Linked DNA regions of Homo sapiens. The protein of the gene in region 1 purifies or fractionates together with the protein of each later gene. This does not show direct contact. Each region holds a gene or a part of one and is shown in the gene's direction. Other genes may lie near its edges.

The links.
Region 2: the proteins of XAGE2 (region 1) and ZNF644 purify together in Homo sapiens (affinity purification with mass spectrometry; 2 studies listed by BioGRID and IntAct, with this or other methods). This does not show direct contact.
Region 3: the proteins of XAGE2 (region 1) and EHMT1 purify together in Homo sapiens (affinity purification with mass spectrometry; 2 studies listed by BioGRID and IntAct, with this or other methods). This does not show direct contact.

What each region holds. Positions count from the first base shown.
Region 1 is NC_000023.11:52,372,006-52,380,929, forward strand, and holds the end of XAGE2 (X antigen family member 2), read left to right. Parts: intron 1-538; coding exon 539-664; intron 665-3,563; coding exon 3,564-3,586; 3' UTR 3,587-3,675; downstream 3,676-8,924.
Region 2 is NC_000001.11:90,931,770-90,943,533, reverse strand, and holds part of ZNF644 (zinc finger protein 644), read left to right. Parts: intron 1-2,224; coding exon 2,225-5,262; intron 5,263-5,443; coding exon 5,444-6,049; intron 6,050-8,003; coding exon of another isoform or gene 8,004-8,126; intron 8,127-11,764.
Region 3 is NC_000009.12:137,771,838-137,783,601, forward strand, and holds part of EHMT1 (histone-lysine N-methyltransferase EHMT1), read left to right. Parts: intron 1-3,271; coding exon 3,272-3,415; intron 3,416-4,780; coding exon 4,781-5,007; intron 5,008-6,044; coding exon 6,045-6,218; intron 6,219-7,797; coding exon 7,798-7,880; intron 7,881-10,453; coding exon 10,454-10,560; intron 10,561-11,764. UniProt on the Homo sapiens protein: Histone methyltransferase that specifically mono- and dimethylates 'Lys-9' of histone H3 (H3K9me1 and H3K9me2, respectively) in euchromatin.

The sequences.
Region 1 (8,924 bases):
AAGTATAGGAAATGAAGGTGTAGTGTGATTTATCCTTAGATTGTCATTTTATATTAGATTTCAGGCCAGGTACATTGGCTCACACCTGTAATCCCAGCACTTTGGAAGGCCGAGGCTGGTGGGTCCCTTGAGCCTGAGAGTTAGGAACTAGCCTGGGAAACATGGGGAAACACCAGAAAATTTTCTCTGCCAAAAAAATACAAAAATTAGCCTTGGTGGTGGCATGTGCCTATAGTCTCAGCCTCTCACAAGGCTGAGACAGGGGGATAACTTGAGCTCAGGAGGTCAGGGCTGCAGTCACCTGTGACTGCACCCCTGTACTCCAGCCTGGATGACAGAGTGAAACCCTGTATTAAAAAACAAATAAAATAGGAATTCATAATACAGGAAAACAAAAGTGTGACAGCTTTGCATCACATTTATTATCACACTAGCCTACAGGCTTTTATGTCATAACTCTGTGGAATAGAATATTATTACTTCCTTATTTATACTTCATGTTTTTGTACTCAAGTTCAATAACCTTTGTATTTTTTAGTGCCTGACCTGGAAGCCGATCTCCAGGAGCTATGTCAGACAAAGACTGGGGATGGATGTGAAGGTGGTACTGATGTCAAGGGGAAGATTCTACCAAAAGCAGAGCACTTTAAAATGCCAGAAGCAGGTGTGTTATTCATTAAGACACAAAGTTATGTGATTTCTATTTTTTACAATATTATACTTTTGATCATAGAGAGATAATATTACTGCCACTTTAATAACAGTGTTCAAATACACACTTTCTTTGAAAGGTACTTCAGATCCCAATGCCTGACTGCAAGACTTAAATGCTCTCAGATACAGACACAAATTGGGTCAAAGCCATATTGAATCATCAAATATGACAGCATTTTCTTACTTCTGAGTATAACCAACAGCTAACAATTTTCAGATTCTTTTCTAATTTCTGCTTTTAACAAATACATAATGCATTTGTAATACCAGACTGTGTGAAATATGCTGAGTACTGAAGGAGATTCTAGTAGCAGCTCTATGACAATTTGTGAGAATCTGGACAAATTCCATAAATTCTACACCCATCTTTGCTGTTATTGAAAATGGTGAATGCAGATCAAATGTATTAAAATCCGTTTCAATGCTGATTTCTGCATGCTCTGGTTCTGTTGGAGAGAATAGAAAGATATTCTGATTCCCATGATTTGTTTTTCCTAACAATCAGCTTCAGTCCAATTACAATATCTGAGCTGAGATTTCATTGCTCCTAAGAAAATGAGCAGGCACTCTGCTTGATGTTTGTTTTCCAGCATGGAGACTTGAATGAGTGTTCTTGGATTTTGTCAAATTCTGAATTATCTGGCTTTTAAAGAATAATTGTATTTTAAAGCCTTCCCACCGTGAAGCCTTGAATGACTGAATAATAAAATGGCAAGAGACAGTCTACTTTCTGTGGCCAATGAAGTAGGGAGAATGCATGTAGGTCAGTCATGCTCAAGGTGGGTGTAAGATGCCTGTGCTAAGCATGCTTTTTGCTCTCCTGTCAGTCTTCATGAGCTACTGTGTGTAATAAAGACACACATGATATAATCACCTCTAACCATATCATAGGTTACATATTACAGGTTTCTGCCTTGAGACATCAGATGATAGGACTTAAAGTTCAAAGACTATAATGTACTAATTCTTGAGTAGTCAACATAAGTATCTTTTACACATTTTTTTTTATAAATTGCTGACTGTTAATGAGAAGAGCTTCTGAATTTAAAGGAAGAACTCCATGTTTAGGGAAGAAATTACCTAAATGTTTTACTCTGCACTGCTGAACCATTCCATTAAACTATTTACATTAAAAGATAGTTTTCAGGAGCCGATTGAACAAGCCTCAGTTGTATTCTTAGGAAGATCACAGCCTTAAATGCACATCTTATTAGAATAGATAGCAAATTACATGATAAAGTAATAATCAATATAATAATAAAAGAGCAACAGAATAAACCTAATGGAAAAGGAAAGAGGTACTTAATAACAGACAGGTAGGAACCTGGATTTTGGATTAGGAAAACTAATCCAAAAGTAATACATTTAACACATTGTTTATTTTAAAAATAGCTATGAATAGACTATCTATTTGTTTCTCCAGTCTTGAAGAAAATGGGAAAAGCACAATACAGAATATGAAGAAGACACAGATATTGAATATGTAGTATAACTGAAAGTAAATACATTCTTTTGTTTTCTTTTGTTTTACTTTTGAGACAGAGTCTCGCTCTGTCACCCAGGCTGGAGTGCAGCAGCATGATCTTGGCTGACTGCAACCTCCACTTCCCAGGTTCAAGTGATTCTCCTGCCTCAGCTGAGTAGCTAGGAGTACAGGCATGCACCACCATGCCTGGCTATTTTTTGTATTTTTAGTAGAGACGAGGTTTCGCCATGTTGGACAAGCTGTTCTCGAACTCCTGACCTCGGGTGATCCACTTGCCTTGGCCTCCCAAAGTGCTGGGATTACAGATGTGAGCCACCACGCCCAGCTGAAAGTGAATACGTTCTTAAACTCTAATATTTTCGGAATATAGATGAAATGGTTGATAAGCTAGGAATGCATGCATTATTAAATATATCCCAGTAGTACCTGAATATCTATTCATCACAAAGACTGTGCATGAACTTGTGAAATTTGCTAGTTGTCCCTTGATAATATTTACTTTTAGAAATAAATATTTAGTTATTCTAGATGTCTTCCTCTACATCTCCATTTCCCTTTCCGTTTCTTTTTTTTCGTGCCATACTGTTCATGATATATACCTCTTTCATATTTTGATATCAATAATGATAATGATAGATTAAAAGTAATGCGATCATATAATTAATTATACAAAGGGGAATTTTTTCAAGTGTAAAAAGAGATATTTGTATTAACATCAGGACTATAGGTGAAAACTGGGGACAGATGTTTACCATACCTTAATATCTACAGAAGGGTAAACTAACCCAAAGCAACATTTTTGCACTTTGGCACAATAGAGGAAAAAACAAATGCAATACTGTCCTTTCTATTCACCACGCATATGCAGCTTCTAATGTGACATTAACTCTTTTCTTAAAAGATAGTTTTCATACTATTTCCAGGAGCCTATTTGACATCCAGACCATAGTTTCAAGCCAAAATATTAAATTGTACATTTTTTATAAATTCCTTTGTTTCTTAGTTTTTTTGTGTGTATTTGTTATATTTTTAGTAAAATTATACACAATTTTTGCTTTATACATTAAATCCCTTTTTAAGAGTTTCACTTGATTTAATGTGTTCTGACCTCGGACTGTCTTTTGGTTTCCTTGTAGCACTAGAAAGCAGGGTGTGTTTAAAAAATATTAATAATGTATATGTTTGGAAGTTTATCTCCAAAGTCTCCACAGAGGTCTAATTGAATGTAAGCCAGAGGGTGACTCTTGGGTTTATGGTCTTAGTCCACTGTACGAAACAAAAACTTTGGTGTCATTTGCATATCTTAATGTGATCTAAATACAGTTCTGCTAGTAATGTTCCACCTGTTATGTTTCTATTACAGGTGAAGGGAAATCACAGGTTTAAAGGAAGATAAGCTGAAACAACACAAACTGTTTTTATATTAGATATTTTACTTTAAAATATCTTAATAAAGTTTTAAGCTTTTCTCCAAAGAAGTCTTGCACATCTTCTGTTAATTTCTTTTTTTCTTTCTTTTTTTTTTTTTTCTAGATGGAATTTTGCTCTGTCGCCAGGCTGGAGTGCAGTGGCATGATATTGGCTCACTGCAACCTTTGCCTCCTGGGTTCAAGCAATTCTCCTGCCTCAGACTCCTGAGTAGCTGGGACTACAGGCACGTTCCACCACACCTGGCTAATTTTTGTATTTTTAGTAGAGATGGGGTTTCACCATGTTGGCCAGGATGGTCTCAATCTCCTGACCTCGTGATCTGCCTGCCTTGGTCTCCCAAAGTGCTGGGATTACAGGCATGAGCCACCGTGCCCAGCCTCTTCTGTTAATTTCATTCCCAGGTATTTTGATACTATTGAGAATTGTGGCCAGGTGTAATGGCTCACACCTGTAATCCCAGTACCTTGGGATGCTGAGGTAGGAGGATTGCTAGAGCTCAGGAAAGTGACACCAGTCTGGGGAATATAGGAACCCCTCTCTACTACAATGAGTGAATGAATGAATGCAACTATAGTCTCAGCTACTCTGGAGGCATAGGTGGGAGGATCCCTTGAGCCCAGGTGGTCGAGGATGCTGGTAGTCATGTTCACGCCACTTGCAACTCCAACCTCCATGACAGAGCAAGACTCTGTTTCAAAAAAAAGTATCATTTTTGATATTTTGTATTCTGAGTTAGCTGATACACAAGTGTGGTATGGTGAAATGTATATTTGGTCATTGACTGTGCTTACTGGCATACAACTCCTATAAAGTGATGTCTTTTTGTATGCTAGTGAGTTGACCAATGTCTGGCAGTCCCTAGGAGCTCTAGGATGAGGAATTAGAGGGTTGGGACTTTCAGCCCCATGCCCAAACTTCAGGGAAGGTTGGGGCTGAAGGTTAAGTTGTTCACCAATGGCAAGCCAACATTTTAATCAGTCATGCCTACATAATGAAAACCTCCATGAAACCCAAAAGGACACGGTTCAGAGAGCTTCTGGCTAGCTGAACACATGGAGGGTAGCATGCCCGTAGAGGCCATGGAAACTCCCTGCCCCTCCCTGCATACCTCACCCTATGTGTCCCCTCATCTGCATCTTTTCTAAGGGTGTTCCATTTGCCACAAAATATGTGAGAAGTCCCTAGGCTATGGAGCTAGATGAAAGAATTAGGGCCTAGGTAGGAGTAAGCGGCAAGGAACCAGGGCAACTTGCTGAAGCAAGATGACGGGTCCTACCTACACTGTCTCCTTATAGGCTATGGCATGAAATACCCATGGGATTCCATCCTGCCTCTTACACACTGGCCTTGAGGGGGTGGGCAAGATATTATAATCTGTGAGGCAATGTCCCCATTTCTAAAGTAGGAATTAGAATATTTACACTAAATACTTGTTATGAAGAATAAATGAAATAACATATGGATTAGGCAATACACTGTAGATAAATTTGGTTTATTATATTTCTTCTTTTAAAATTTCAATTTTTTTCATTCCCTTTGCCTTTACAACCACATGTTTAGTAAGTAATAACTGCTCTTAAATTTCAAGTAGGGGTATCAAGTTACCTTTTTAAATGAATTTGACTTCTGAGACTTACTTAATTTAAATAAATATATTAATTAAAAACCAGGGTAGCTGGTGTCAGACATGACATCAATTCTAAAGTTGGTTTGTGAATAAACGCAGTCTGACAAGGCCAACCCTAAGTCAATGGAATGTGCCGAACACTGTGCCCTTTGCTGTGTGTGATGCCGTGAAGAATAAGTCCTTCTGGTCAGCCAACACCACACAACACAATAGTGTGTCAAGTGTTCAAGCAGTACACCTGTAGTGGCTAACGGCAGCAAGGAGCCCCACTGCCGTTGTTAGTTTGGCTTGTCACACATCCATAGATTTGACCAATAAGAAGACAATGAGCCCAAATGGGTCCAAATGGTTGATTGATTGCAGGCAAAGTAAAAGCAAGGTCAGCATTGTGTCAGCACTGTGTCCCTAGTCCCACAGTATGACACTGAATCGGAGGTATACAATGACAGCACAGACGGTGGGTCTCTCTGCCTGTGAGGAGCCCACAGCTGTACCCTAAGACAGTGAGCAGTTTTATACTCCACAGTTGTACCCTAAGATGAGGAAAGGCCCGTGCTTAATGGAAACTAGGAAAATGGATAAAGAATGGTCTCGTGTCAACCTCCAACCAGATAGGGAGCTGGTGAGAAAATACCTGTGGCAGCTCCCACCACGCTGCCTATCTCCCCTTGCAACAAAAGGAATCCAGGTATTCTTCCAACATTCAGGTTAGCCTGCAGTCTGGCTTTGCCTACGTGTCCTATGTGGTGACCTGCAAGATCTCCAAGACACCATGGCAGAGCCTTTGCCCTATAGTGTCTGACACAAAACCATATGTAAGGTGCCTAGAAACATACCATCTCCAATAATGACTCCTAAATAGAGGGGATGCTTTTCTGTTAGGGTCATTACAAAAGACTGATAATTTAATTCAACAGATATGCATTGATGACTGCCATGTTATAGGAAATGTCTTGGATGCTGGAAATGAGAAGACCAACCAACAATATGTGGTACTTGCTGTGGAGGCTGTCACACTGTTGGTGGGGGGAGGAGGGCACCTTTACAGAAGACCCTTAAACAGAAGAGCAGCTGAAGTGCAAAGGAGAAACACAGGGAAGGGACCCAGGGGGATAAAAACAATGAATGTGGTGGCCAAGTAGCAGGAGTAAAACAAGACAGTTTCTCGAAAAGATAATTTCTCCATTGCCTTTGTGCCTTTTCTGAAAATCAGTTTATCATGTCTGTGAGTCCATTACTGGACTTCCTGCTGATCTGTTGATTTTTCCCCAATACCACATTCTCTTGATTACTATAGAATTAACATGACTCTTGATATTAGGTAGTGTGAGTTCCCCAAAGTTATACTTCAGAATGGTTTTGGCTGTTCTGGCTCATTTTCCTTTCTAGGTAACTTTGAAAATTTACTCCAGTGAAGTTAGTTGTATAAGTTGAGGCAGTTTTCCTTTGAAGGGCAGCAGATAAACATGTTAGTAGCTACAGAAGGACATGGGAGAAGAAGGTGAGTTCCCCCTTAGCTTTGGGAATGATCCAATGTAGAGGGAGCCATTGATGGTTCAGGAGAGGGGAGTGATCACTGTAGGAGCAAAGCCCCTGGGAAGGTGGGGGGTATGGATCCTGAGCTGAGGTGAGGGGCTGGCTTCAGTTAAGAGCATTGTATGTAGAAGGGCAACAGAGAATGCCAGGGCAGACACGGGTAGACTGGGTTTGGGAACCTCTGATAATTCCCAGCAGATTGCTTCTGTCCTCTGAATGAATCACTATGTCTCAAAAATAAACAGTGTTAATATAAAACTAACAGTCATACTGTTATAGGCTGAGTTGTCTCTGCTCAAAATTCATACCACGCCCAGCCTTATTTTAATACTGTCTTTAGTACCATATAGGCTGAGTTGTGTCTGCTCAAAATTCATATGGTGAAGTCTGAACCCCTAGTGCCACAGAATGTAACTATATTTGAGATAGGTGTGGTCTTTAAAGAGGTAATTAAGTGAAATGGGGTCATTAGAGTGGTCCTAAGGCAATTTGCCTGGTGCCCTTATAAGAAGAGGAAATGATGACACACACATGTACAGAGGGAGGACTAAGGCGGACACCGGGAGAAAACAGCAGACTACAAGGCAAGGAGGGAGGCCTTAGAAGAAACCAATTCTGCTGACACCTTGATCTCAGACGTGTAGCCTCCAGAATTGTGAGAAAATACATGTCTGTTGTTTAAGCCACCCAGTCTGTGGTAGTTTTTGATGGCAGCCTTAACAAACAGATAGAAATACTTTTAGTGCCCTTGTGGAGGTATTATTGTATCTATTTTATAAGCTAGCACTCCTGCTTCTTCTACTAATGTAATAACCATGTAATGATGTCTATATCTGAGCAACTGAGCAGTGATGAGAGAACTTCAAAACCTGAATTCATGACCAAGAGAGAATTACTTCTCACTTTCACTCTCATCCTGTTTCCAATACCATATTACTCTCACTAAATGCCAAAACCCCTCCTCGATTTGAATGAGGTATTTTGTGAGAGTATTATAGTATTGGAAATTTCTTATCATGAAGTCACTTGTTATTAAATTATATGTGTTCAGCATCAGTAAAAAAATAGTATGGAAGAATAATCAAGTCTCATAAAATACACAGTTATCATGGAAATCATACTAGATTTGGAGTACAGTGAAATATGCCTGTTCAGGCAACTGCAGGAGACGTCTGCCAAACCTATCTGCCCCTTGAAGTCCTGAGACAGATGATTAGTAGGAGAATCCTGAAGCCACTGCAAACACTCACACATTCACCATTCACACCTGCCAAAATATTCCAGCATTCACCATTCACACCTGCCCAAACGTTCCCACATTCACCATTCACACCTGCTTAAGCATTCTCATGTTCGCCATTCACACCTGCCCAAACATTCCATTTACCATTCACACCTCCCAAGCATTTTCAGATTCACCATTCACACCTGCCCAAACATTCCCGTATTGACCATACACACCTTTGACCATTTTGGGGTGAAATAAGAAAATGACTTCTACTTCCCAAATCTTTTAAGAGGTGCATATTATTAGCATCACCTGGGAAGCTGTGGCACACCACCCTCTGCAAGGGATCCTGGGACGGGTATTTATCAAGATTCTAGCAGTAGCCATACAAGGGAGAGCAGAAGAGATGGGAGTGCCTGTTGTTCAAATGCTTGTGGAAATTATACCTGCCAGGGTTTTCCATGGTCTATGTTGTGAAAGAAGCTTCCTGGACAGTGAGGTTCATGTGGCGATGTTTCCATGGGCCCCCTGAGAATGGTTTGGCAAGAGAGAAAAAAAAAGATCTCTTAAGTCATTTTCTTTCTACTAGAAATAGCCTGTGGATGTGGGTCTGGGGACAGCGGGAAAACCCTGGCTGGCCCTGCATGTGCCTGACTCTGTGTGTACACCCCTTGTTGCCCATGTGCCCTGCTGTCAGATCAGTTGTCCCAGAAGTTTCAGTGTGAGTGAGTGTGAGGAGGAGCCCGCGGGCACAGTCTATAGCCTCCTAGGCAGAAGGGCCTTGAGGTTGTTGTCCTCCTAACAGGCAGCGATGCACTGCTTGGGGGTGCCGGATAAGGGAAGAAGGAGGGCCATAGAGGGGAGGAGGGCCTGGTGAGCATACAGTGAGTTATGAAGGGGGA
Region 2 (11,764 bases), on another chromosome or scaffold:
AAAGAATAAGATCAGATTATAAGTGCTTGTTCTAAGTTATAAAATAAGAAAAATATAAGAACAATTTTATTATTTTATTGTTTTTTATTTTTTGAGACGGAGTCTCACTCTGTTGCACAGGCTGGAGTGCAATGGCGCAATCTTGGCTCACTGCAAGCTCTGTCTCCCGGGTACACGCCATTCTCCTGCCTCAGCCTCTCGAGTAGCTGGGACTACAGGCACCCACCACCACGCCTGGCTAATTTTTTTTATTTTTAGTAGAGACGGGGTATCACCATGTTAGCCAGGATGGTGTCAATCTCCTGATCTTGTAATCCACCCGCCTCGGCCTCCCAAAGTGCTGGGATTACAGGAGTGAGCCACCGCGCCCAGCCTAAGAACAATTTTATTATTCTTGAATTAGATTTAATGTTTTACAAAGCATGAAATTGGTACCCTTAAAGGATAGTAGAAATATTGAACTATATTGAACATGTTTTGATTTCTAAATGTTAGATTGTAAGGTCCTGTTGCCCTAAAATAGTATTACTTGTTATGCAAATTAAAAATACTGCAAAAGAAAAATATACAGGCTTCATTCTTTATCTGAGAGCAGGAACCTAACTTGTCTTGTTTACCATTATATCTGGAATACAGGAACAATGCATGGCACTACTAAGTGCTTAGGAAATATTTGGAGAATAACTGCAAAAAAGGAGAAGAAATATGGAAGCTTATGATGCCAGTACTTCAATTAGTTAATACCTGGGGTTGCCAAATAGCAGGTTCTTTAAATTGTACATGAAAATTACTGGATATTTTGAGGACCTTATTATAATTACTGAGTTAATAAATCAGAACCTGATGGAACTTGTGTTTGAATGGGGTATCCAAATTTCATAGGAACAAAACTGTTTTTCTTCTGTACACTTTAGGAACTTTTACTTTGATTTTTGAAATTGTGTTTTTATTAATCCAATACTTATTCAGTATTTTATTCAACAAATATTGCCTGAGCACCTATGGCAAGTGATGTACTAGGTTCTAGAGATATGATAGTGACTAGATTACATTCCCAGCCCTCAAAGAGCTGACATTCTTTGAAGAAGGCAGATACTTCCAATGTGGCCATTTCTAAGAGCAGGAAAAAAACAGGTTGCAAGGGAACTTTTCATAGTGGGGGTAGGCATTACAGTCATGGTGTGAATGGACCCCAAACATTCAGAAATACTGTTTCCTTTAAAAATATTGTACTTTTTTCTCATAATGATTAAATATCTTATCAAAAATGCCTAGAAAAGTTTTATCTACATTTTATATGAAATAAATTTAAAACATATGTTTATGCTATTCTATTGTAAAATGTGTTAGGCCATTGCACTAGACCACCAGATCATAAGTGGGATAACTGCTTTTAGAGAATGCCTAGAATTTGAGGCCCCACATATGAAAGTTTGACATAAACCTTCATTAATTTTAACTTTAGTAAAGTTAAAATTCGCTTTACTAAAATTTAGTTAACTTTACTAAAGTTAAAATTATAGTTAAGGTTAATTTGAATAAGGAATGAACAAAACTATGAATAAAGCATTTTTACAATTGATAGAATGTTGGGAGAACATTAAGCATCTTGAGAGCAAAGCAGTCTTTTAAAAAGGACTATTTCATACATAAAACATTGATGTTGATAGCAAATATGTTCATTCAATAAAGTTATTTACTGAATGGTGTTTTGTTACCTTCAGGAATGAACTTATAAGTGACAAATCTTTTACTTCTCTGCAATATTTGATAATTTATATTGTTCTCTAGAATAGAGTGACTACCTCTGATAAACCTACTTAAGTGAAAGAATTTTCTTTGTATTAGCAATCTCCACGTGAGGTTTAAAATTTTTTCAGTCTGTAGCATATTTATATTGTTTTTGAGTCTGTGTATACATGTGTATCTGTGTGTATGCTGCTTTTCCCTAGTGTGTTTGTGTATGTTGCTTTTCCCTAGACATTTTGTATACATGACGTATTGGACTGTTGTTGTTGCCTAGCATGAAGAACAATATTAACCTTTGAGGTGCTTTTTAAATATTTCAATATGTTTGTGTTCTTTCATTCTTGGAAAATTATTAGAATCTCAATATAAAGAGTAGAAAATTAAACTAATAAAAATATGTACTTTCAACTCTCCATACATTCTAATAGTATTTTTTCTTTCATGCAAATCTAAATTTTTTTTTTCCATTTTCTAGACTAAATGTGTTAAATGGGCTTGCCAACAATATGGATGATTTGAAGATAAACACCGATATTACTGGTGCTAAAGAAGAACTCCTAGATGACAACAATTTTATCTCAGACAAAGAGAGCGGAGTTCATAAGCCAAAAGATTGTCAAACATCATTTCAGAAAAATAATACGTTGACTCTGCCTGAAGAACTGTCAAAGGACAAATCTGAAAACGCCTTAAGTGGAGGCCAGTCTAGTCTATTTATACATGCTGGTGCTCCTACTGTTTCTAGTGAAAACTTTATCTTGCCTAAAGGAGCTGCTGTTAATGGACCAGTTTCACACTCCTCCTTAACTAAGACTTCCAATATGAATAAAGGCAGTGTTTCATTAACCACTGGACAGCCTGTGGATCAGCCAACAACAGAATCTTGTTCAACTTTGAAGGTAGCAGCTGATCTTCAGCTGTCTACACCACAGAAAGCAAGTCAACACCAAGTTTTATTTTTGTTATCAGATGTAGCACATGCTAAGAATCCCACCCATTCCAATAAAAAACTACCTACCTCTGCTTCAGTTGGTTGTGACATTCAGAATTCAGTAGGGAGTAATATAAAGTCAGATGGCACTTTAATAAATCAAGTAGAGGTGGGTGAGGATGGTGAAGATTTATTGGTGAAAGATGATTGTGTCAATACAGTAACGGGAATTTCCTCAGGTACAGATGGATTTAGGTCAGAAAATGATACAAACTGGGATCCCCAAAAAGAGTTCATTCAATTTCTTATGACTAATGAGGAAACAGTAGATAAAGCTCCACCTCATTCTAAAATAGGTCTAGAAAAAAAAAGAAAGCGAAAAATGGATGTAAGCAAGATAACTCGTTATACCGAGGATTGCTTTAGTGATTCTAATTGTGTACCCAATAAATCAAAAATGCAAGAAGTAGACTTTCTAGAACAAAATGAAGAGCTACAAGCAGTAGACTCACAGAAATATGCATTATCAAAAGTGAAGCCTGAATCAACTGATGAAGACTTAGAATCTGTGGATGCCTTCCAACATCTAATTTATAACCCAGATAAGTGTGGAGAAGAGAGTTCACCTGTTCATACTAGCACTTTTCTTTCAAATACCTTAAAAAAGAAATGTGAAGAGAGTGATTCTGAGTCACCTGCTACTTTCAGTACCGAAGAGCCATCATTCTACCCCTGTACAAAGTGCAATGTGAATTTTAGGGAGAAGAAGCACCTCCACAGGCATATGATGTATCATTTAGATGGGAATAGTCACTTTCGCCATCTTAATGTCCCAAGGCCATATGCTTGTAGAGAATGTGGACGGACATTTCGAGATCGCAATTCACTTCTAAAACATATGATTATTCACCAGGAGAGAAGACAGAAGTTGATGGAGGAAATTCGTGAATTGAAAGAACTTCAGGATGAAGGAAGAAGTGCACGATTACAGTGTCCTCAGTGTGTGTTTGGTACCAATTGCCCTAAAACATTTGTGCAACATGCTAAAACCCATGAAAAAGATAAAAGGTACTACTGCTGTGAAGAGTGTAACTTCATGGCAGTGACAGAAAATGAATTGGAATGCCATCGAGGCATTGCACATGGGGCAGTGGTAAAATGCCCTATGGTCACTTCTGATATTGCCCAGAGAAAAACACAAAAAAAGACTTTCATGAAAGACTCTGTAGTAGGATCATCCAAAAAATCAGCTACCTACATATGTAAGATGTGTCCTTTTACTACTTCAGCCAAAAGTGTTTTAAAAAAGCACACGGAGTACTTGCATTCATCATCATGTGTTGATTCATTTGGTAGTCCTCTTGGACTTGATAAAAGAAAAAATGACATCCTTGAAGAACCTGTAGATAGTGATAGCACTAAAACATTAACTAAACAACAGTCAACCACATTTCCAAAGAACTCTGCTTTAAAACAAGATGTGAAGCGAACATTTGGATCAACCTCACAATCAAGTAGTTTTTCAAAAATTCATAAGCGGCCACACAGAATACAGAAAGCTCGGAAAAGCATTGCCCAATCAGGTGTAAACATGTGCAATCAAAACAGCTCTCCTCATAAGAATGTTACAATTAAAAGCAGCGTTGACCAAAAACCTAAGTATTTCCATCAAGCAGCAAAAGAAAAGTCTAATGCCAAGGCAAATAGCCACTATTTGTATAGACACAAATATGAAAACTATAGGATGATCAAAAAATCAGGTGAATCATATCCTGTGCATTTCAAAAAAGAAGAAGCTAGTTCATTAAATTCTTTACACCTGTTTTCATCATCAAGTAATTCTCACAACAATTTTATTTCAGACCCTCATAAGCCTGACGCCAAAAGGCCTGAAAGCTTCAAAGATCACAGACGTGTAGCTGTAAAGAGAGTAATTAAGGAATCTAAGAAGGAAAGTTCTGTTGGAGGGGAAGACTTGGATAGCTATCCAGATTTTTTGCATAAAATGACTGTTGTCGTTTTGCAAAAACTTAATTCTGCTGAAAAGAAAGATAGTTATGAAACAGAAGATGAAAGTTCCTGGGATAATGTTGAGTTAGGAGACTACACTACACAGGCCATAGAAGATGAAACCTATAGTGATATTAATCAAGAGCATGTAAATTTATTCCCTTTATTTAAGAGCAAAGTGGAAGGTCAGGAGCCTGGAGAAAATGCTACTCTTAGTTATGACCAAAACGATGGCTTTTATTTTGAATACTATGAAGATACTGGAAGTAACAACTTTTTGCATGAGATACATGATCCTCAGCATTTAGAAACTGCAGATGCTTCATTGTCAAAGCATAGTTCTGTTTTTCATTGGACTGATTTGTCTCTTGAGAAGAAATCGTGTCCTTACTGCCCAGCAACATTTGAAACAGGTGTTGGGTTATCAAATCATGTCAGGGGGCATCTTCACAGAGCAGGATTAAGCTATGAAGCCCGTCATGTTGTATCACCAGAACAAATAGCCACAAGTGACAAAATGCAGCATTTCAAAAGAACTGGCACAGGAACACCTGTTAAACGAGTTAGAAAAGGTAAGTTCTCCATGGGGATGATTTGGGCTGATAGGTCTGTGTTCTAATTCTGAAGATTTAAAAGTTTTTTTTGAATTTAGTCTTTATTAGAATCATAATTTTATGTTTCAGAATTAACTCATTTTAGGGTGGTCAGTTTATATAAGAAAGTCTGATATTACTCTTAAAAATTTTTTTCTAGCTATAGAGAAGTCTGAAACCACTTCTGAACACACTTGTCAGCTCTGTGGTGGTTGGTTTGATACTAAAATTGGATTATCAAATCATGTTAGAGGCCACTTGAAAAGACTTGGAAAGACGAAATGGGATGCTCACAAATCTCCAATCTGTGTTCTGAATGAGATGATGCAAAATGAAGAAAAATATGAAAAAATCTTAAAGGCATTGAACAGTCGTCGTATTATTCCCAGACCATTTGTAGCTCAAAAACTTGCATCAAGTGATGACTTTATATCTCAAAATGTTATACCTCTTGAAGCATACCGTAATGGCCTAAAGACTGAAGCTCTGTCAGTGTCTGCATCAGAAGAAGAAGGGCTGAATTTCTTAAATGAATATGATGAAACAAAACCAGAACTGCCCAGTGGGAAAAAGAATCAGTCTCTTACACTCATAGAACTTCTTAAAAATAAAAGGATGGGAGAAGAAAGGAATTCTGCTATTTCTCCTCAAAAGATCCATAATCAGACAGCAAGAAAGAGATTCGTTCAGAAATGCGTTCTTCCATTAAATGAGGATAGTCCGTTGATGTATCAGCCACAAAAAATGGACTTGACTATGCACTCAGGTAAGAGGACGTTTATGACTATGCTATACACAGTTTAAATGCAGTTCAATTATGCCTTCTTTAATGGAATCTATGTGGAAAATACTTTCTCACAATCTTCCTGTTTAAGCTGCTTTTTTTTTTTACAGAGCACAGATTGGTTATTCTACTGTCATTTCTGTATAACTCATCAATTGATGCTCATTAGCACTGAGTTCTCTGTGCCTCTTTTCTTGGTCTGAATGTAAGGTGAGAACAAAAGCAGAAGAAAACCACACACACACACAATAAAAACAACAAACAAAAAGCTGATCTGTAAAAATAAAACTTGCTCTGGCTGGAGGATGGTTGTGGATGGGAGGTTGATGTTCAAAAGCATAGCATTATTGAAAAGGCATACCTCTGTCATATTTTTGCCAGTTCTCCAAGGTGATCATGTTTTCAAGATTTAGCTGTTGGTTTTTCCACTGCTTAGGTAAAACAAAACAGACTCTTAAAGCTGAATGGATTGGTGTCTGTTGTGATTAACCCAAAGAAACATCTCCCTCTCCAATTCCTCATTGTATTGCGGAATAGTTTGGTTTTGGAGAACAGTTGTGAACATAAAACATATTTGTTTGGGGTTTTAGGTTTTAAGATAGTGCTCTAATGGAACAGGACAGATGATTTAGCTTAGTGCTGGTGCACCAATAGTTTTTTCCTTTTGAAAGGAATATTTTGTATGTATTGGCAAATAATGTGGCAGATAAAGTAGCCAAACTTTATTCAGTATTGCCAAGTGTGGTTTATACTTTTAGACTAGAAAAATTTTAAGTGTTTTTTCTAGATTTCTTTTTGAAGGTTAATGTTGAAGGTTTATGTAAATGGTCTCATGATTAGAGCTCTAAGTTGAATGTGTCAGAGGTAATAGTTAATGGATTAATAACGACTAACATTACTGTAAAGTAATGTTGTTTATTTGCTTTGGGGCAGACATTGTGATATCCCGAATAGTTGTAATGCAGTTTTGATTTAAGGAAAGATAACTTTGTATTGTAAGTGGTCTGGAAAGCAGTTTATCTTGTATGAGCTTCTGTTTAATCCGGCTTTTTCTTTCGAATAAAGAGTCTCTGAAAGTCAATAGCTTTCAATATTTTTTCAGAAGGGTAAAACGCAGGGAAGATGTGTTAGCTGTGTTGACCAAGGGGTAGTATACTTCAGAGATGGAAAGCATATTTGTGGCTATCACAGTAATGCTGAAGAAACCAGTTGAAATGTGTTGGGGGAGTGAGGATTGTCTGAGAAGTTAGGAGTTTCTTATTGTTTGAACATGTTTTTCCTGTGATGACTAAGATGTTAGCTTGTTGATCATTTATTTAGCACAAAGATTTTAGCAAAAAACTTTAAATCATTAACTTTCATTATTGATTGCGCATTCAGAGTAATGAACATAAAATACCCTAAATAAAATGTTGTGTCTAACAGCTGTTCAGTGGTGTGTTTTACCACCTTTTCTCCCAGCCTTCATCAGAAAGCCTAATTTAGTATTGAGACTTTTACGGTTTTGTGGGTAAAACACTTTAATTACCACTTTGTCAACTAGACTTTTTAATTCTTTTTATTGGTAATGTTGTAAGCTTTGAAACTTCTCAACAGAACCGTGTTGTTCAAATCACAGGATTGTATTGTAGTAGGTTTAAGAAATAATCTGCGTAACACAGAAATCTGCAAGAAAGTAATAATAGGTGTATATCCAGAGGAGCTCAAAGGTTCAAGTCACTCCTCGTCTACCTTTCCAAAGAGCATGAGTTGACTCTAAATACTAACTACAAACTAATAACAGTTAACTTAATTTCCCCTCCTTATTTTAAGTTAACCTATTTCATTGAACGTTTTGAAAACCATCTTTATTGTGGTGCTTTTCTACACTCTTTAAGCTAAGAAAATTTCACTTTTTGAAGTGAGAACTGGATTATAGTTTTCTTTTGAATGATAGGTATGCCTGTGAAGCTTAGAACATGTGTGCATTGCAATACGACGTTTACAAGTGCTGTTAGCCTGTCCAACCACTTACGCGCTTATGCACGAAAGAAGAGTGCTGGACTTTTGACTGGTACAGGTATGTTTGAACAGATATCACAGCAAGTCTGTTTGATACAATACACTTTTTTTTTCCCCACCAGACTGGTGTTAATTCAGATCATATTTATAGCTTTCTTTGGTAAGCTGCATTTGAGTCTGAATACCCATTGAATTTCAGCAACTTGTAAACTGTTAGATGTAATTCTAAGCAAGTTAATCTTTTTCTTTTGGCTCTTATTGACTTAATTTGGGGGAAAAAAAATTAACCCAAGAGGTGTGGAACTTTGAGTCTACCTTAATCCCATTTATTTTTTAGAATACTATTTTTGATTTTTAAATTGATTTTAGATTCCAGTAAAACACCTCTCTTTATAGTTCTAGTCGGGCTCAGTGGTGTGCCCCTATAGTCCCAGCTACTCATGAGGCTGGCAGGAGGATCACTTGAGCTCAAGAGTTAGCGGCTATAATGTGCTATGATTGTGCCTGTGAATAGTCACTGCACTCCAGCCTGGGCAACATAGCATAAAAATATTGTAGTTCTAGCTTGGGGAAATCCTTTATTAGAAAAGGAAATTATAGGGAAATTTCAAAATGTAGACTTGATTAGGAAACTAAGCAAACTAATGAATTTTCATTAGTCTATAGATTAGATCTTTGAAGGGGTGAGCCTTAATAATGGCTTGTGTTGACAAGCGAATAGATTTTTCTTTTAATACTTCTTAAATATATTAAGGATTAATAAATTTAGCTATGCACATAAGTGTTAACATGCACATTTCTGTGTTATTTTTGGTTGGTTAGCCCAACCTTGCAGATACCTCTTAATACTGCTCATCTGTGAAAATTTTATTAGCTTACTTATATGTAATACGCTTCTTATAACCTACAAAATGCTTTGCACTTTCATTTGTAGTCTTTTAAGCTACCCTGCTTCAGCAAATCTCATTTCCCTCACATCTTAAAATATACCCTCTTTTTGACATAGATCTACATAAATTCTTTTGCCTAAAATTCTTTCCAATCATTTTATTTCTCTTGCTCTTTTTTAGATCACTGCCTCCTGCTTTCTTCTAGTTGTTTTCCCAGCTTTTTTGTTCTTCCTCATGTCCTAGAACTTAGATCCAATATGTTCTTGCTTTCAAAAAACCACTTATATTTATACTAGTGTCTTTCTTCTGCTTCTTTGCATTCTTCCTTAACTTGATATACAAATGACCAGGGATGAATGTTGACAATTTATATTAAAAAGAGAGGAGTGGGGTGAGTTTTAGTCTACTGGATTAGGCCTCCTACTCTGAGATTATAATTTTTATATACCCTCACCTTTATCAGGCTTGGCAAGTGATTGCAGACATTAGAGGTGGGGAACAATAAAAATAAGAGACTATACAAGTAGGAAATCATTATTGTTACCATACTTGCTAACTTTTATTGAACATTTACTATGTGTCAGGCACTATGCTATGCAATTTACATGCATAACATTTAATCTTTACAACAGCCATACAAGTTGTAGGTACTGGAATTCTCTTAACGTTTTATAGGAAACTAGGACTTAAAGAACTTAATTTGCTCAAACTTACACAGTTAATAAGTAGCAAGGTTGTAATTCAAATCAGGGCTATCTTACCTAATCTTTGTTTTTAATCACTATTCTCTACCTTACACAGGCGGTCTATTTTTGAATTTCTTATTTTTAAAATAAGAAATTGAAATAAAAATAAGCAATGGAAAATTCTAAAATGAAGGTGGGTTTGTTCATTTATTTATTTATTTATTTTGAGACGGAGTCTCGCTCTGTCACCCAGATTGGAGTGCAGTGGCGCGATCTCGGCTCACTGCAACCTCCACCTCCCTGGTTCAAGCAATTCCCCTGCCTCAGCCTCCCGAGTAGCTGGGATTACAGACTCATGCCATCATGCCTGGCAAATTTTTTTGTATTTTTAGTAGAGATGGGGTTTTACCATGTTGGACAGGCTGGTCTCGAACTCCTGACCTCAGGCAGTCTGCCCGCCTTAGCCTCCCAAAGTGCTGGGATTACAGCCGAGAGCCACCGCACCCAGCCTGAAGGTGGGTTTAAAATGGGGACTATTCTGGTGAAGACTGAATAAATAAGAGTCTAATTAAAAAGAGCAGAGATCCAAGAAGTGCTTAGGCCTAAATTAGACTTTAGAGGAGTTAATGTTCCATTCTGATTATTCAAGCAGATTATGCAAATATCCAATAAGGCAAGATATCTCCAGTCCAGATTTTATTAGTCCATTAAAAAAATGCTTTTACTTCATCTGAAAATTCTGCAAAACACAGGATTAATTACTTATAAATAACTGGTAGTAAATCTCCATTTACCAAGAATGCACTTATGAAGATTATCTAAAAAATCTTCATTATCAGAGAGAAAAGTAATGTAGGATGACTGGGAATATGTTTAGGTCCTGAAGAATAAAAGAGGGTGTTATTTTAAAAATATGATTAAGTACTACCAAAATATTAGAAGTACTAGGAAATAGAAAGCGTGTGTTTGGCAGTCCTAGGCAAAGAAAAGGAAAATGAGAAACTGAAGAAAGCCTAGGGTCTTATTTTCCACACCCAGTAGCCACTTTTGAGAAACTTTAAAAACTAATGCTTCTTTTTCTTGGAAATTCTGAAACATTTTTTCCCTCATTAAAAAAAATCTTCTTGATCAGTAGAGCTATACAGATGTCTTTGCTGCTTATTCATGCCAACTAAGAAGTTTTTTTTCAAGCTTTATTAACTTTTCTGTTTTCCAGATAGAGAATTCTGTATTGTATTTACAAACTCCACATACTGATTATCCCCCATATCAATATCACTGTTATAAAGCAGTGTTCCTAAAAACCTATGGCCCTAGAAGGTTCCACTTGGTTATTATAAGTGATTCATTAATTCATATGAGTAACAGGCATCATTTTTCAAGAACACATGATCTTTTAATGAATAAAATGCAAATTCATTTTTATAAAATCTTACCTTAGTATATCACAAAATTGGAACAATGTAAAGGGAAAGTAGATAGGAATAAAGCCTCCCTAACCATGTCCAGTATGTGTATTTCTAGTTTAAGCAGTCTTAATTCATGTAGATTTTAAGTTGTGTGGTCCACTCTTGAATACAAAGCTTAGATACCCTCAGACTAAATGGTAAAGGCCTGCTTTTGGTTACCTGTGATAGAATAAACTTTCAAGCCTTCTTAGAAGCCACAGCTCCTGGTCTTTTCTGTGGGAACTGGTGACCTTTTGAGGGAAGAAAAATATTTCTTCTAACTTATAATCTCTTCAAGTATCCTGAATACACTGAAAAGGATATCCCTCTTCTTCCCAAAATACCTGTTTACTGGTAACTTAAATACTTCTAATGTGATGGTTCTCAATCTTTACTGGGGTCACCGACATCTTTGAGAATTTCATGAAAGCTGTGGGCCCCATCCCAGAAACATGCACTTATTTGTTCTCAGATAAAAATTTTTGTGTGTATAGACTTTGCGTATCTCCTGAAGGCTATCATCAATTTGTCTGATGGCAAATTGAGAAAGGAGAGATGCCAGAATAAAAGGAAAGTAGAAACAGAACTAGGAATCAGAAGCCTTAAGAAGTTCTTTTTTTTTTAAGAGCAGAAGATGCTTAAAATGCAAGAATTGCATAATAGCAAAACTAA
Region 3 (11,764 bases), on another chromosome or scaffold:
TGAGTCACAGGGGACCCCAACTTGGAGGCTTTTGTATCTCGCTCAGGAGCGGGGCCCACAGTGGAGCCCAGATCTGGTTTAAACCAGATCCAAGGAAGAGGAAGGAAGGGAGGGCATTCCCACAGCTGAGGAAAGGCTAGCCCAGGACAGCTGCACACCCCACTGTGTCCTAATAAGCCACCATGCAGAGCCTGTGGGCCCTGCAGAGCCTGTGGGCACTGGGTATTAAATTGCGCTGAGAAAGTGCTACCTGTGTTCCGCTTGATAATGGTTCTAAGGTTATATGAAGTATGATTTGTTAGCAATGCATATGGAGTTATTTATGGCTAAAATGGCATCATTTTACCCCTAGGTACTTTGCTAAATATACCAGCACACCTCTCCAAGCACAAAAGGTTATAGGGGATGGCTTGAACGAGAAGAGAAAATACTGGTAATTTTTGAAATTAGGCATGGGCACATGGGGATACATTTTACGTTTGTCTCTATTTTTGAAAGTTTTCTTAATAGAATATTTAATAAAACAGACACTAAAAAAATAGGAAACCGTTTTGTAGCGGTGGGCTTGTGTGGAGAGTAGATAGTGAGCTCTGTGGCCACCTCTGCAGAGGGTGACCCCTCACCTGCGCCAGGTGGGGTGCCTAGCTGCATGGACCTCGTCTGAGGCTCCGCCTCGCCAGCTCTGTATTTACACCAGCTCAGCCCCTGCCACCGAAGCTGGCCCTGATTCTTTAGCCTTCCAGGGTTCTGCCGGTGCGGACCCACCTTCAGGCAAGCAGGTTTGGGTTATCTCTACTTTGTGAAGTCAGTACCTGTTTCAGCTGCTTTCTGTCCTGAAAGCACAGCACCTCCCTGTGGTGGGCTCCTTTCTTGTTCTGGTCCCTCCTTCAGGATCCGGTCAGCAGTCGGTGAATCTGTACTCTGCTGTGGTGAACCCAGGGTGCCCCTCCCACCCATGGTGACCTCAGTGGGGCCACCCCAGTGCATCTGTGTTTTTCCCACCTTGTTAAAGGATTCCTTGTTTTATCTCTTTTTTCCCAACCCTAACTGGATCCCATTGTCATTTATTTGATATATCCTTCCCAGAACATCTCCTTCCTTACATTCTCCTGCCGTTCTGCCTGGACCCCCTACCCCGCAGCTCCCTTCTGTGTTTCCTTCTTACACAGCACAGAGCCAGAATCATACAGCATTATCGTTTTTATGATTGTAAAAATAATGCATGCCGATTGTAAAATAATCCAGATACTACATACATGCATGAATAAGAAAGTAAAATCACTTCTTATTCCAAAACTGAGGGAATCATTCTTAGTACTTTTGTATGTTCTCCTAGACTTCTATGTGTATAACCACATTGAATTTTTGAAAATAACTTGTTTTTCCTTTAATGTAAACATTTTTCAAAGTCAGTAGGTACAAGTGCCCTGCAGCCGCTGGTCCTGAACCAGGGAGTCACTGCAGAAGCATTTGGTGGTGGTGGTGTGGAGGGGGCATTTTTTCAGGATGTACATGCCCTGGTTCTACGCCTTTCAGGTCTTGTTCCATAGGTTTGGGGTGGGGCCCAGACTGTCTTTTAAAAAAGTTGCCTGGGTGATTCTAATGCAGCCTCATTTGGGCATCGAGAAGTCTCTTGCTGGCTTCAGGGTAGATCATTTATGCCACCTGGGCGTGCCCTGCAGCCACTCTTCTGCAGGTAGACAGGTTGGTTGTTCCTACTTTTCTGTTATTGCAAAAGCTGGGTCCTTCTAGATACATGTTTGTGCACTTAATTATATCTTCAAGTGGAGTCTTAAGAATATGTATTTGTAATTGATTCATGTCTCCAAGTTGCTTGCTGTGAAGTTTGGACAGAACTCACAGTGATGGTGTGTCATCTCTGCAGACCCCACAGATACCAGCTTTGCAGTGTGCCAGACCGAATACGAAGAATGTCAGAGGCTTATGTTGAATTTCTTTGTGTAATTTCCTTTGGGGGGCATTTGTAGTTCTTCTTTAGTGAAATGCCACTCAATTATTTGCTTATTTTTGGGGGGGCTACTTCTTGTTTTCTTATTGGCTATCAGAGAACTTTCCGTAGCAAACCTGTAAGGCTTTGTCTGGTGTGCTGCAGAGTGCCTGGCATCCTGGGTGCCCTCATTGCTTCCACCTCCACAGGCGCCTTCAAGTCCTGGTCCTCTCAGAATCCTCCAGTGACCATGTTCCCCAGTCAGGCCCCAGACTCTGTGTCCTGCTCCTTGCCTTGTGTGCAGGTTCCTCTGGCTGCCCCAGAATCCTTGGGGCTCCCACAGATTCATTGTACCGCTGCCCACTGCTGGCCTGTGATGGCCTGGACTGTCCTGCCAGGTATACGTTCATGTTTCCTGGATACCCAGCCCAGAACCCCTCTCACCCCAGAACCTTCCTTGACTTCTGCCAGAGTTGAGCAGCCGGCCCTCTGGTAGGCGCATGTGAGTGGATGTGGGCACATGTGGCCCACTGGATCTGGTGGATGTGGTCGCGTCTGGCCCCCTGGATCTGGTGGGTGTGGGCACGCCTGGCTCCCTGGATCTGGTGAGTGTGGTCGCGTCTGACCCCCTGGATCTGGTGGGTGTGGGCACGCCTGGCCCCCTGGATCTGGTGGGTGTGGGCACGCCTGCCCCCTGGATCTGGTGGGTATGGTCGCGCCTGGCCCCCTGGATCTGGTGGATGTGGTCGCGTCTGGCCCCCTGGATCTGGTGGGTGTGGGCACGCCTGCCCCCTGGATCTGGTGGGTATGGTCGCGCCTGGCCCCCTGGATCTGGTGGATGTGGTCGCGTCTGGCCCCCTGGATCTGGTGGATGTGGTCGCGCCTGGCCCCCTGGATCTGGTGGGTGTGGGCACGCCTGCCCCCTGGATCTGGTGGGTATGGTCGCGCCTGGCCCCCTGGATCTGGTGGATGTGGTCGCGTCTGGCCCCCTGGATCTGGTGGGTGTGGGCACGCCTGGCCCCCTGGATCTGGTGGGTGTGGTCGCGCCTGGCCCACTGGACCTGCTCATGTGCCGCTGCCTCCTGCAGTTTGTGCAGATGATGGGCGTTTCCTTCTCTGGGCTCCCTGTTTGTCCCCCGTGCTGAGGCGTGTAGCAGGTGCTCGATAAGTGCTTGCAAAGCCAAGCTGGCCTTGCAGGGCTCGGCTCAGTCAGCCCACACCTGCTGAGCAGCTCTTGTGTGCCTGCACTGCCCAGCGCCTGGTGGGAGGGAATGCCGGCCTCTCGTGACTCTGACATTGACCACCAGTCTTGTCTGATTGCAGTTGGGCCGGTGCACAAACAGCGTGGTCAAGTATGAGCTGATGCGCCCCTCCAACAAGGCCCCGCTCCTCGTGCTGTGTGAAGACCACCGGGGCCGCATGGTGAAGCACCAGTGCTGTCCTGGCTGTGGCTACTTCTGCACAGCGGTAAGAGCCCAGTCCGGCAGCCTCTGAGTCCTCCGCAGGCTTTGCTGTCTGCTCACTGGTGCTGGTTCCTGTCCTGTGTCCACCTGCTGTCGGGTGGTCCAGCAGCTGGCCCAGGTCTGGTGTCCGTCTGGAGGTCTCCAGTGTTCACAAGCCCCTCACCACCCCTGTCGAGCCCCAGTGCCTTAGACACCTTCACCCCCAACCCCCATTTCCCTCCTACCGCCTGGAAACCGCTTTTGGAGATGACTAGGACGGTGTGACCTGGGCTTCCAGGCCAGAGGAGGGAAGTGAGGGTTGGGGGTGAAGGTGTCTAAGGCACTGGGGCTCGAGAGCAGTGGTGAGGGGCTTGTGACGCACTGGAGACTCCAGGTGGAGGCTGTACTGAGGACGTTCATCCCCCATGACAAGGGTGTACTGAGGACATTCACCCCCCATGATAAGGGTGTCCAGAGCACACAGCTCCTGGGAGAGGTGGCAGCACCTTGCTGTGCCCTGGGCTGTTTCTGCTGGGATCTTGGGTCATCAGTTACTTCAATGTCAAACATCTGTGCTCAGCCGTGCCCAGGGCCCCCCGAGAATGGGCTGCTTCCCTTTGGAGCTCCCCTGTGTGGGCATCCTCGTGCATGTAGGGTGTGTGTGTGTGTGTGTCTGTGCGCGCACACATCTGTGTGAGCCTCTGCCTGTAAGCGTCTGTCTGTGTGCGCCTGTGTGTGTGAGTGTTTGAGTGTGAGCTTCAGGCACCCAGAGATGCCCTGCTGCCCCTTTACGAACATGGGCCAAGAGCTTCCACTTTTGGGAGACTTTCTTTGGACTTCACACCTTGCATGTCCTCCCCATCTTCAAACATCCTTTTTTTGGTTCTGCTACATCTGTTTATCTCTGGCTTTCTGCAAGAAAATGCTGTTCTTACGGCTGTGTGCCCCTCCTCGAGGCTCACCTGGGTCGCCAAACCACATCTGCTGCGCACTGCTGGGCACTGAGGCAGCTCCACCTGCCTGATGCTGTGCCCTGAGGTGCTGTCGTCTGTCCCTGTCCCTATCCGCCCTTCAGAGTAGGGGCCTTCTGGGTCCTTCTTTAGGCCTTCTCTTTGCGGGCAGCCTCAGCTTTCCTGGGCCTAGGTGGGTTGGAGGCAGCCAAGTGACCTCTGTCTGGCTTCAGCTTCTTCTCTGTGGGGCGAGAGCACCACGGGAAGCATCGTTCCTCCTTCTTAACGATGCCTGGGGCCAAGACTGGACCCCACCCCGACCCATGGCTCACTCTGCAGACCGCCCGATGTGGGATGCGGTGCCAGTTTAGTAGTACTTTATTTTTCTAAATATTAACCCCAATTAAAACAAAAATTTTTTTTTGTCCTCCCATTTTTAGGGTAATTTTATGGAGTGTCAGCCCGAGAGCAGCATCTCTCACCGTTTCCACAAAGACTGTGCCTCTCGAGTCAATAACGCCAGCTATTGTCCCCACTGTGGGGAGGAGAGCTCCAAGGCCAAAGAGGTGACGATAGCTAAAGCAGACACCACCTCGACCGTGACACCAGTCCCCGGGCAGGAGAAGGGCTCGGCCCTGGAGGGCAGGGCCGACACCACAACGGGCAGGTACCTGGCACAGGCTCTGGCTGGGCTCTCCAGTCGTCCACCTGAAAAAGTTTCAGTTGTTAACTCAACGTTATTGCTTCCTGCTGTTTTTTCCAGAAGTCTCTGAGCTGATGCTGATGCTTATGGTGATTTCTGACATTTAAGACTCTGAAATTCATTTATTGCCATTTGTGCATACGTTGCTCTCTTTCGGTTTGGTTATGTAGATCCATTTGCCTGTTTTGAACCGGTTTTCACAGCACCCCCATTGATGTAGCTCTGTGGTGTTTCTGTTGATGGCACAGTCCTGTTGGTACACAAGCGATAGACGAGTGGTGGCTGCTGCAGTCTGTGACCGAGTTCTGTGGTATTAAGGTTTGAAGGCCTTAGCTGAAGACAAAAAAGTCTAAAATAATTAGAAGTGTTCATATTAGACAGATACAATTGTCTTCCTGAAAGAGTCCAGTAGAAACAGCTGAAAAATTTTTAGAGCTCAAAAGAGTCAGTAAGAGGATCTGATAAGAAGAGATAGAAGCCACTTGCCTTCTTCCTTAGCAGCAGTTCCCTGCCTGAGAATAAAATAACAAAAGAGACCCTTTCAAAACAGCAACAAAACTTGTTACTACCCAGCAGAACAAAGAACTTAAATGTGACACTAATATAAAGAAAATAAACTTCCTTGAAGATTATTTAAAAGAGACTCAAATTGTGGACATGTTAAGGTGATTCCTTCCTATTAACCTGTAAATTTAATGCACTTTGAATCAAAATTCCAGTGGGATTTCCTTTTGTTGGGGTGGGCAGTGGACTTGATAGATTCAGCTTGAAGCTCATTCATGAGAGTGTATTTGAACACGCTGCCCAGAAGTCTAGGAAAAGTTGCCCTAGTTTTCTCAGGAAATTTGGTTCTGAATCCTGAACCGTTAAATCCAGGGACTAAGCGGACAGTAAGCAAATCCGCAGCTCTCACTTAGAAAACAGCGCTCTCGGGCAGTCAGAGTCGGAACAGGCCATGTTTCGTGTTTTCATAAACCTTTCCCCGATTTCCTCCCCTGAAGTGCTGCCGGGCCACCACTCTCGGAGGACGACAAGCTGCAGGGTGCAGCCTCCCACGTGCCCGAGGGCTTTGATCCAACGGGACCTGCTGGGCTTGGGAGGCCAACTCCCGGCCTTTCCCAGGGACCAGGGAAGGAAACCTTGGAGAGCGCTCTCATCGCCCTCGACTCGGAAAAGTAAGACCTGACATGTGATTTCAGAGATGTCTCAGAGCCTGTTTTAATCTGCACCCCGCGTTTTTCCCCATGGTGTCACTTTAGCACTTCTCAGCTTTTTGATTAATGCTGTTCGTTAGAATAATTCGTATATTTTCACACTATTTTGGGAAATTATTGTAAATTACTGTCCTCTGCATTATAGTAAGAGCAACCTCTGACACCTTTGAAGTCCTAAGTGAGGAGGCAGGTCTTGGTGAGCTTTGACAAACATTTCCTGGTTGCTGTTGGCCCTGAGCTGCCCTTAGGTCATGAGAGCAGACACTGCTTCTGCTGCCTTGACTCCGTTTCCCTCCCAGGCCACACCCCATCTGTGCAATGCGAGGGTTGGGCCAAGGGGCCCTCCAGGCTTTCCCGACAGCTCACAAAAACCCACCCCTCCTCGTCCTCCTCTCAGCATTGCCCCACCAGGGAGGCAGACCAGACTGTGGCAGTGAGGCTTGCGGTGCCTCCTCCCTGGATCTCCCCTCTGTCTGCCTCCAGCCTCGCCTCTGAGCCTGCTCTTGAAGCGACGGTACCATCTGCTGACGCCAACAGGCCCTGCTCGCTGACCAGACCCCAGACTGTTCCTGACCCACAGGCTCTGCTCGCTGACCAGACCCCAGACTGTTCCTGACCCCACTCTCTCCCCCATCCCTTGGTGATTGTGTTAGTCTGCTTTTGTGTCAATATAAAGAAATGCCCAGGGCTGGATGATTTATATAGAAAAGAGGCTTAATTGGCTCACGGTTCTCCAGACTGTACAGGAAGCATGGTGCTGGCATCTGCTCCTTGGGAGGCCTCAGGAAGCTACAGTCATGGTGGAAGGCAAAGCAGGAGCAGTAGCAAGAGACAGAGAAGGGGGAGGCTCCCAGACTCTTAAGCGACCAGATCTTGTGGGAACTGACTGAGCGGGAACTCACTCATCACCAGGGGGAGGGATGACACTAAGCCATTCATGAGGGATCTGCCTCCAGGATCCAGTCACCTTCTACCAGGTCTCACCTCCAACACTGGAGGTCACATTTCAACGTGAGTTTTGGGAGGGACAGAGGTCCACACCATATCAGTTATCAGCTTAGTCATCGAGTTAAGGTTTCAGAGCAAAAGTGCCAGTGTTCCCAGCTCTCACCGCCCAGGACATCTTCTGTAGTGCGAGCTGTGCCCTCACTCGTGACCACGCTGTGTGGGCTCATCCTGGCTGGGGCTGGTCCCGGCTGTGCTGAGCGTAGATGAGGTTCCCCTGCATCCTGCGCTGGTTCTGTCGTCGTGTTGTGTAAAAGCCTCACAGTGCGTAGTGTTCTCCTGCGGTGACTGGGAACGCAGTTTCTTGTCCGCAGTTTTTACCATGAGATATCTCGACTGGTGGGTTTGCACTTGAGCTTGTGGGGCTGGTGGGCAGACGTCTGCCGGGCCTTCCAGCCTTCAGCTTCATGTGTGGGACGCGGAGCCCCATGAGCTTGAGGGGCTGGTGGGGAGATGTCCGCCGGGCCTTCCAGCCTTCAGCTTCATGTGTGGGATGCAGAGCCCCATGCTGACTGTTGTCTTGTGCTTCCCACAGACCCAAGAAGCTTCGCTTCCACCCAAAGCAGCTGTACTTCTCCGCCAGGCAAGGGGAGCTTCAGAAGGTGCTCCTCATGCTGGGTAAGTGCCTTCCTGCGGCCCGGGCACATGCAGCCGGCCCTGTGGCACTGAAAGAAGCCGAGAGCAGTTGTTACTCCTTCCTCAGGAGGCTGGTCTCGTTTTGGTTTTCTGTTTCTGTGTCTCCGAGTTCTCTGATGAGTGAGAATAGGTTGCCCACTGGTGTTGAGGCTTTTTATGGTGTTCATATCCAGTTACGCAAGATATTAGAACTATTCTCTACGAAGTTCTAATTTTTAAAAAGGAATTGGTATGTGATTATTAAATCAAGCAGAAATAGAGATTAAGGAAAAGCAAAACTAGTGAGTTGTGGCCCTGAGATGTGTGGTGATGACGCTGAGATGTGTGGTGATGACGCTGAGATGTATGGTGATGATGCTGAGATGTGATGACGCTGGGATGTGTGGTGATGACGCTGAGATGTGTGGTGATGACGCTGAGATGTGTGGTGATGACGGCATCACTGAGATGTGTGGTGATGACGCTGAGATGTGTGGTGATGACGCTGAGATGTGATGACGCTGGGATGTGTGGTGATGACGCTGGGATGTGTGGTGATGATGCTGGGATGTGTGGTGATGACGCTGAGATGTGTGGTGATGACGGCATCACTGAGATGTGTGGTGATGACGCTGAGACGTGTGGTGATGACGCTGAGACGTGTGATGACGCTGGGATGTGTGGTGATGACGCTGGGATGTGTGGTGATGACGCTGAGATGTGTGGTGATGACGGCATCACTGAGATGTGTGGTGATGACGCTGAGACGTGTGGTGATGACGCTGAGACGTGTGGTGATGACGCTGGGATGTGTGGTGATGACGCTGAGATGTGTGGTGATGGCATCACTGAGATGTGTGGTGATGACGCTGGGATGTGTGGTGATGACGCTGGGATGTGTGGTGATGACGCTGAGATGTGTGGTGATGACGGCATCTCACTGAGATGTGTGGTGATGACGCCGAGACGTGTGGTGATGACGCCGAGACGTGTGGTGATGACGCCGGTATGTGTGGTGATGACACTGGGATGTGTGGTGATGACGCTGGGATGTGTGGTGATGACGCTGAGATGTGTGGTGATGACGGCATCTCACTGAGATGTGTGGTGATGACGCCGAGACGTGTGGTGATGACGCCGAGACGTGTGGTGATGACGCCGGGATGTGTGGTGATGACGCTGGGATGTGTGGTGATGACGCTGAGATGTGTGGTGATGACGGCATCACTGAGATGTGTGGTGATGACGCTGAGACGTGTGGTGATGACGCTGGGATGTGTGGTGATGACGCCGGGATGTGTGGTGATGACGCCGAGACGTGTGGTGATGACGCCGAGACGTGTGGTGATGACGCCGGGATGTGTGGTGATGACGCTGGGATGTGTGGTGATGACGCTGAGATGTGTGGTGATGACGGCATCACTGAGACGTGTGGTGATGACGCTGAGACGTGTGGTGATGACGCTGGGACGTGTGGTGACGACGCTGAGACGTGTGGTGACGACGCTGGGACGTGTGGTGACGACGCTGGGACGTGTGGTGACGACGCTGGGACGTGTGGTGATGACGCTGAGATGTGTGGTGATGACGGCATCACTGAGATGTGTGGTGATGACGCTGAGACGTGTGGTGATGACGCTGAGACGTGTGGTGATGACGCTGGGATGTGTGGTGATGACGCTGGGATGTGTGGTGATGATGCTGAGATGTGTGGTGATGACGCTGGGATATGCGGTGATGATGCTGAGATGTGTGGTCATGACGCTGGAATGTGTGGTGATGACGGCAGTCGATGTTTCACCTGTGCTGATCGCAGCAGCTGTGGTGTGGACAAAGTAGGCTTCAGCTATAGGTATTTTATAACAGGCAAACCGATTGCATTAGATTTCTAATACGCAAAAGCATACTTGTTAGAGAGCCTTCCCAGTGATAATTTGGTCTCTGAGCTCATAGCTTTAGGCTTGATTTCTCTGACGTTCATCGTCTCTGGGTTGAAAAGGATGATTAAGAAGCCCTTTACTGGACAGTACGTCAAGTAAAAAGAAGTGAAACTATTTGCTTTTAAAGAAAGGTTTATTTATGTTGACCAGCAGTTTTAATCATTTTGTCATGGACTTCACAGGACACCTGTGAAGGTCACCTCACTGCTCCGTTGCTCACCGTCCTCTCAGACCTCCTGGGAATTGACCGATGCTCAGGCCTCTGTCCCCGGCCTTGCTTGCTCCCCTAGGGTGTGTCTGCCCTGGTCAGCCGCCTCACTGGGCCTGGGGCGGCCATGGCCAGGCCACACAGAAACACAGAAGGAACCTCAGAGTTAGAGCAGGGTGGTAAAGGGAAGAGCGTGCCTTGCCGAGTTAGTTCTGACAGAGGGACCTGCCTGTTCAATTCCGCAGGAGACTAGCACACTCAAGTCTCAAGTCCAGAGGATGGTGCTGTGGGCGGGTTCCGGCGTGGCTCGAGGTGGCTGTTTATGTGGAGGATGGTCATTTGTGAGTGCTTGCCAGCCATCGTGACAGTCCTGAGCTGGAGTCTGTGGCTACATCTGAAATCATTAATAAAACTGTGTTTGTTCACAGTGGACGGAATTGACCCCAACTTCAAAATGGAGCACCAGAATAAGCGCTCTCCACTGCACGCCGCGGCAGAGGCTGGACACGTGGACATCTGCCACATGCTGGTTCAGGTGCGGCGGCACGGCGCCCTCCTAGGGCTCTTCACCTGCTCTCTTTTATTTTTACCAAAGTAAAATCATACCACGTTCGCGGTTCTTCCAGTGTAAGAGTTCCGTAGTGCTGTGAATCGGGCACAGAGTCAGCTTTTCTGCCCCCGAGTCCTGCAGGTGGATCAGTGCTTCCCGCTGTTTCTTCCGGCATTTACCACGGCCTTTGAGAAGAGCATGCCGCCATTTGGCTGTTTCTTGATTTGCTTTCTTTGGTTTTGGTTTTGGTTCTTCACACTCATGACGTCCCTCTGGGGGAGCCAAGCACTCGCAGAGGCACGGACGCCCCTCCCCCAGCCCCGTTGACTGGCTCCCATTTTGTTTAGATCAGATCGTGTGAGCATTTTCAAGCTGAACCACGTCGTCTACAGGGTATGTTGTGTCTGTCGTTAATCACTGGCTTGTGTTTCTGTTGGTTGAGTTGACTCTGCCACCTGCTAATTTATTCTGAACCATCTGAACGCTGCCCGCTTGTCTCTGGGTTCAGACACACGACGCTGTTTGTCCCCCTGTGACGCCCCTTCCCTGATCCCGGTGTTGGATCCCCTGTTTCTCAAGTGCCAGGTTTGAGTCTGGTGCAGTCTGACTTCTGATCCTTTGTGTGTGACCTATTATTTCTGGAGACTTTAGGAACTTTCCTTGAACCCCACTGGTCTGAAGTTGTACCTCATTGTAATGTGGGTCTTTTTAGATCCACTGGGGCATTTGGTGCATGTGCTGTGCCCTTTCAGTGCAGAAATCCACACCTGTCAGTTCTAGGAGGATTTCCTGTGTGACTTCTGTGCCCAGGTCTTCTACCTGTCTCAGCTCTGTCCTGGGACTCTCATAACTCAGGTGTGGAACCTTCCAGACCGATTTCCTGCCGTGGTCTGTTTTCTTGTCTTTTGGTTCTGCCTTCTAGGCAGCATTCTCACCTTCAGCTTCCAGCTCCTGGGGGATTCTTAACATGTGTGGTCACATTTTCAAATCCCAGTAATTCCTTTCTGCTCTTAGATAGTTCCTCTTTCAGTAGCCTCTTTTTCTTCCCTTATTTCTCTGATGGTATTATGGTTATTTTGAAGTTTTATGCTGCTGTGTTTTAGTTTTTCTTATCTAAAGGTTTTCCTCAAATGCCCAGTGATTCTCGTTTATATTTAAAGTAAACTACTGAAAAGCTGGTGGTAGCTCT